Linked DNA regions of Homo sapiens: region 2 is reported to be linked to region 1. The links are microRNA targets in miRTarBase. Many come from high-throughput screens and were not tested one by one. Region 1 holds a microRNA gene; the other region holds the end of a gene's coding sequence. Distances are between the middles of the regions.

Region 1 (3,152 bases):
CTAAACCTTGGATCATTCCTAAAGTACAAATTCTGTTCTCGAACCACAAACAAGGCTAAAAGATCGGAGGAAATTCAGTGAATATACAGGATTGGGGTTGTGTATTTTTAAAAGTATTGAGCTTTATAATGTAATTATTCAAGAAATAGAATCATGGTTTTTTTATGATGTTGCCAGCATTTTAAATTACATGTTTATTAAGTGGCATTGCTCAAATAACTACAGAGTATGCGTGGAAATATTTGCTGTCTGAATAGTTTGGAGATTCAAAGAGAAAAATCAAGCTTCAGAGGTATTAAATTATGACATGCAGAAAAGTTTTTGTTTTGTTCTTAACTGCAACGGTATATATTTAAATCCGATTTAAAGTATTATATGTCCTGGGCCCACCTTACCAGTTGTGCTGTATAGCAGTGTAATGGGAAGCAAAATTTCAATTAGGGTCCCATTAACTGGCATATAATCCTTCTTTAATGTAATAGAGGCTATGGTGTTGCTGTACAAATCTGCTAGAAGCAGATTTTAACCCATGTTTAGTCTCTTTCTTTGGATCTAATGGAATGACTCTTAACTGTTCATTGTCTGCATTGTTTCTCATATTCTTCATTATTTTAAGGTCTGGAATTAGTCTATAAATGGTCGTCGTGATTACTCAGCTCATCCTAACTTTTATATATCATATATATTTCTACTGAAGTATTTTAAATAGTATTTAGAGGTAAAAGTCTAAGTGAACCCAACTGTAATTTCTAAGCTATCCTTATTTCTGGAAGAAGAATTCTACCGCATCAAACCAGACTTTTCCTAGTCCCTGAGACCCTAACTTGTGAGGTATTTTAGTAACATCACAAGTCAGGCTCTTGGGACCTAGGCGGAGGGGAACCAGCAGCTTTGGACCTTATTGATTGTCTGCAGTTACCACCAGAACAAAAGAACATACATAGATTCTGCCTAGGAGAAAAGAACAATGCTTTTCTTTATCATCAGCAACGTTTTCACCATGACCCATCCCCAAAAATACTATTGTCAGAAACTGTACTCTAAAGTGATTACACAGTTGCACTGAAATAGCGTTTGTATTATAACGATCATACAAAAGCAATATAAGAAACCTGTGTAAGAAGCAAAATTAAAATATAAGTGTTTTAAAATGCTTCTTTTGGTGCATTTTAAGGTGGCTAGTATAAGAGGATATCTCTTCAGTTAATGAAGAGAGGGGATTATATTTATAACTTTTCATATGCATTGAAATATATACATTAGCTACTTAAATAAATCCTGTATGCCTCCATATAACTATGGCTCAGACTATGTCATATACAGCTATAAGCATGCTTGAGGCCTAGAAATAACATGATTTACAATCTTCTTTATTGACCCTATTAGATTTTACTACCGATTTAAGAAGAATGCTGTTTTATACTTTGTATTTATTGCCAGGGCTTTTCTGAGTCTTCTATCCAACCAACATACTTTATATGTCTTAACAATTCTAACAATTATTTTGTTACGAGAGTCCAAGAGTGAAAGTTTCACCAATAATCTGGGAAAATATGTCTTTTTAAAATTTTTTACAGTTTACTGTGTACATATCATGGGCCTACGTGAGATAAAACAGTAAACGCCACCTATGAAGTCAAACTGCTTTGACTAGCAACTGCATATGAACTGCATAGTTTTAGTTTTATAAGAATTTTAGCTTTATCGGAGGTAACTATTCCAACCATAAGTAATATGTCATATTTGAAAGTTTAATAGCCATTGCCACATCAGATATGTCTTTCTTGGAGATAGAATCAGTATGCTAAATCTATTTAAAAATTTTACAATAATGTTACAAATATCAAGATTCAAAATGGAGATGACAGACTTTCCTTAATAGAAGCAACAAAGTGGCTTCATTCTTTTAACTATTGCCTTAGATGGGTGCCATAAATTATGTGTCTTCTGCATTGTTAAAATAAATTTATGAATGTATTTTAGAATACTGTACGGAGTCTTTGTTCATCTTTTTAAAAATTTCTTATAATACCTACTTGAAATATTACAGAATACAAATCATCTATTAGTCATAGTTATTAAAAATTACTATAACAATATCATAAACATACACATCTATATAAAGCATGCAGAATATGTTTAAGCATGTATGCACACTGTACCTATTCAGATTCTTTATTTATATCATCTACTTCATTTATCTAGAAGTTCTGAAATTTTAGGTGTGTGTATGTATATGTATAAATATAAGTTTTAAAGCTCCAAATGAAAGGAGGTAATATAAACAGTAAAGAGCTTTGGTAGTATTTATCTTTTATTTCTTTTGACCTCATTCTCATTGGAATTGAGTATTTTTTAAAACCATAAGTTTCTTAATACAAAGAAATCTATGTATGTGTGTCTACATGTACACAGAAGCTTGATTACATTTAATAGCAATGTTCACACAATGGATCTGAAAGTACTTCTTGTAAAAAAGAATATCACATACAAGTATGTGTTTACTAACATCTGTTTTAACATGATCATAAATAATATCTGTGAAAGGTTCCATCAAGTTAGTTCCAAAACAATGTAAGGGGTAGATGTTTATTGGCTATAGTGATATCAGATATAGGTTATTCAAACGTGAAAATTTTTTAATGTTATCATATTCATGAACCACACTATATATTAACTTCTGTCTCATAAAAGAAATATACCAAAACTGAATTGAGAATGCAGTCATGTTTGTTCATTTTCACCATAAACATATAAAATGTTTTTTACTGATAATCCTGCACAATTGGAACTTCTCTATGTAACCCTCCTATATGAACAGTCTTTCAAGAGCGTCATTGACAAAGCTTTTCTTTTACTTCATAAAGGTGTATATAGATTTAAGTGGGTGACTTTGCTTATGTAGGCTACTTTATGCTGTATGTGCATAGACAGATGCCACTTTTTCTGCATTTCTATCTCAGCTGTCACAGGATAATATTGTTTTAGGGCTTTATGATATGATTTGGAAAATCAGATCATACTAAGCTTAAAATAAAAAGGAGAGATCTACAACAAAGAGCGAGAAAATGATGTGTGTTGCATGCAAAAAAAACAGTGATATTAACAATTCGATGGCTTCCTGGTTGGGAGACCAGCCTGAGCCAGACGCA
Region 2 (3,000 bases), 30 Mb from region 1:
GTGGTGGTGGAGCTGGATGGGCTAGAGCAGGATGCCCTGGACCTGGTGGCCCTGGTGACCAACGTGGTGCTGGAGGAGCACTACCTGGTCGTGGGAGTGGTGGTCATCGTGGACCCAGGGGTGATCCCTATCAACTCTCGGGGTGAGAAGCAGCGCATGCACCTGCGGGACGGCTTCCTGGCTGACCAGCTGGACCCCATCTATGTCGCCTACAACATGTGAGCGCAGCACACCGGCCCAGGTGCCGGAGATGAATGAGCCCCAGCAGTCCAAGGTGTGATGTGGGAAGACACCGCAGAGCTCACTCACCGGGACTCGCCCTTCCTGTGCTCTTACAGATCCCTCTCAACAATCCCCGCATCTCCTTTTAGAAAGCACTTCCTGAATTATTTAAAGAAATATTTTGAATCTGCCAAGTACATTTACAAAAACACGGATGCTGGTATTTTAACAGATGGAGAGACAAGGAAAGGAAAGGAAAGGCCTGGCATGGGCATTGTGAGGAATCACAGGCACCGAGGTTGTTCTCTGCTGTACTGCAAGTTTGCACTTTCTTTAGGCTAAAAATATAGTTCCTGATTTTTAAAATTCAGTTATTTATTCCCACTTCAAATGACAAGTTCATATATAGAATTTACGGGAGAAACTTGAGACCATTTACGGGGAGAAACTTGATTCTGGGAAGATAGCAGAGTACAAACCAGCTGCCTCACTTCTGTTTCACAGGGAGGCTGATGGAAAAAGGAAGCAAGCTGGACCCATCCTCCCTGCTCACAGAGGGCACTGTGGTCACACACAGTGCCTCCTCTGCCAGTTCCTTTATTGAAAGAGGTGTGCTGGCTGGCCACGGTGGCTTACACCTGTAATCCCAGCACTTTGGGAGGCCGAGGCGAGCAGATCACGAGGTCAGGAGACCGAGACCATCCTGGCTAACATGGTGAAACCCTGTCTCTACTAAAAATACAAAAAATTAGCCGGGTGTGGTGGTGGGCGCCTGTAGTCCCAGCTACTTGGGAGGCTGAGGCAGGAGAATGGTATGAACCAGGGAGGCGGAGCTTGCAGTGAGCCGAGATCACGCTACTGCACTCCAGCCTGGGTGACAGCACGAGATGCCGTCTTAAAAAAACAAAAAAGAGGTGTGCTGCTTGTCAGCATGTATTGTCACGGACACTCAATAAGTGCCATTTTGGACTGTCAAATTTAGATGCTTTGTTTCAGAAAGATAAGCCAGCATTTAGTTTTAAATCACTTTCCTGGTTTGTAACTTGATGCTGTTTAGTTAAATTGCTAGTTTTCCTAACACTACAATATTAATTCTTCTCGTGGAAGTGTACTGATTTATTATTTTTATTCCAAGTCAGCAGATTTGGAAGCATTGTGGTAAAGTCTAAGGTTTTCATATCCATAGTGCTGTTTGGTGAGTACCGGCAGTACAGTTGAGGGGAGCAGGGAACAGCATTGCCCCGTATTGAAGGTGGAGATGGTTACATTCTTCACTGCTTTTTGCATTTTGAGTTGTGTGCCTATAAAATTTGGCCAAACCATTTTATTATTTTGTTCAAACTTGACTAAGCTGAGTGATCTAAAATTATACAGAACCTAAATCAAAGAAGAGAATGTAAAGTCCTTTAGTTACTTCTAAGAATTTGAAGTCAAGCACGAATCTAAGACATAGATTATTTTTATATAGCTAATGAAGAGTATGTTACGAAATTGTTGGGTTTTTGGGGTATTGAGGGTGGCAAATTTTGTGAATCATGCATGCTTCACAGAAACAACCAGGTTTTTCCAGAATTAGTCTGGATCAGTGCCTAACAAAGCTGTTATTAATTCTCCACACATGAGTCTGGCTAACTGGGCCAGCTCTCATGTTTTACTCCTGTCTGGCTACAAATAGCACTGTGCATAGTAGCCCTGTTTCCCCATGGTGTTGGACTGTGGTAAAGTATGTTGTGACATACTGGAATTCTAATAATCCTGTTGTAAGTATGTACAGAATCTATGTAACTTATTGTTGACATACAGAGGTTTGGGAAGTAGTCTAATGGACATTCCTTACAATAGAATGGCTGGGAAGGGAAAGAAAAAAAAAAAAAAACTACCTAACTCCAATCTTAATGTTGTAGTTTTATAGCAAACAAAAATTGTCAGCTTTTTGTATTGAAAGGTCAGTGGTGGTAAGACAAGGTGTCTTGTAAATTAAGATTTTAAGAAGTGCATTAAAATGTTTTAGAATTACTCTGGGAATTCTGTATATCACACTAAAATTTTTATATCATTATGTTAATAAAAGTTATTGACTTTGTAATTCTGCATTTTGAAATGTGTGAAAAGGGTCTTTAAATTACCCCGAATAGGTTGTATCTTATTTTGCTTTTTTTCTGACTATAAAAGCAGTTATGCTTATAGCATAAAATCTAGAAAGCACATTAAAGTATAAAGAAAATTAAAATTTCTTATAATTCTACCTCTGAGTAAACAGCAGCATTCGTATGTAACATAAACCCTCTCAGGGATTTATTTTTTCTTTTTAAAAATTTTTTACAAAATTAGGATCAAGTGCTTTTTTAAATAATTTGCTTTTGTACTTAATAAATTATAGACTTTAAAATCTATTACATATATTCTTCTACATGTTTCAGTGGCTGTATTTTACAAGTGTGCCATGAGTAAATGTAGTATTTGCTGTATTGCCGTACATCAGCGTTGTTTCAACAGGACTGCAGTGAGCCCAGATGCACGTTTACACTGCCATGATTACAATTACTGCCTTGGGCTCAGTTCTTATAGGTAGAGTGAGTGGGTCAGAGTTCATGCCAGGTGTGAAGCTTTGGGTACCTGCTGCCCTCCAGAAGGGCAGGATGACAGCATGGAAAAGGCCTCTTTGCAGATGCCAAGTAATGTTGGCAATGGACATGTGCTCAAGATTAAAATAACTCTTTAACAATTTGATAGGCAAATAAGTGTTGTGTCTGGTCATGTTGAATATGTCCTCGTGTT

What was found. Region 1 holds the annotated microRNA hsa-miR-125b-2-3p (UCACAAGUCAGGCUCUUGGGAC, at 846-867, shown strand). A microRNA usually pairs through its seed, bases 2 to 8, with sites in the 3' UTR of a target mRNA and lowers its output. Matches are read on the target gene's strand: a 7mer-m8 pairs with bases 2 to 8, a 7mer-A1 pairs with bases 2 to 7 and ends in A, and an 8mer does both.
Region 2: miRTarBase lists DIP2A as a target of hsa-miR-125b-2-3p. The part of its 3' UTR that is shown has no 7-base or 8-base seed match.

What each region holds. Positions count from the first base shown.
Region 1 is chr21:16,589,445-16,592,596 of GRCh38, forward strand. It overlaps MIR125B2 (microRNA 125b-2), which reads left to right and starts at 793; the gene lies at 793-881. The region is part of intron 6 of MIR99AHG (mir-99a-let-7c cluster host gene); the gene reads left to right.
Region 2 is chr21:46,567,401-46,570,400 of GRCh38, forward strand. It overlaps DIP2A (disco interacting protein 2 homolog A), which reads left to right. Exons shown (of 38, transcript NM_015151.4): 38 at 1-2,615. The coding sequence ends at 222. Among named protein-coding and RNA genes, the nearest start is that of S100B, 36 kb to the right of the region's middle.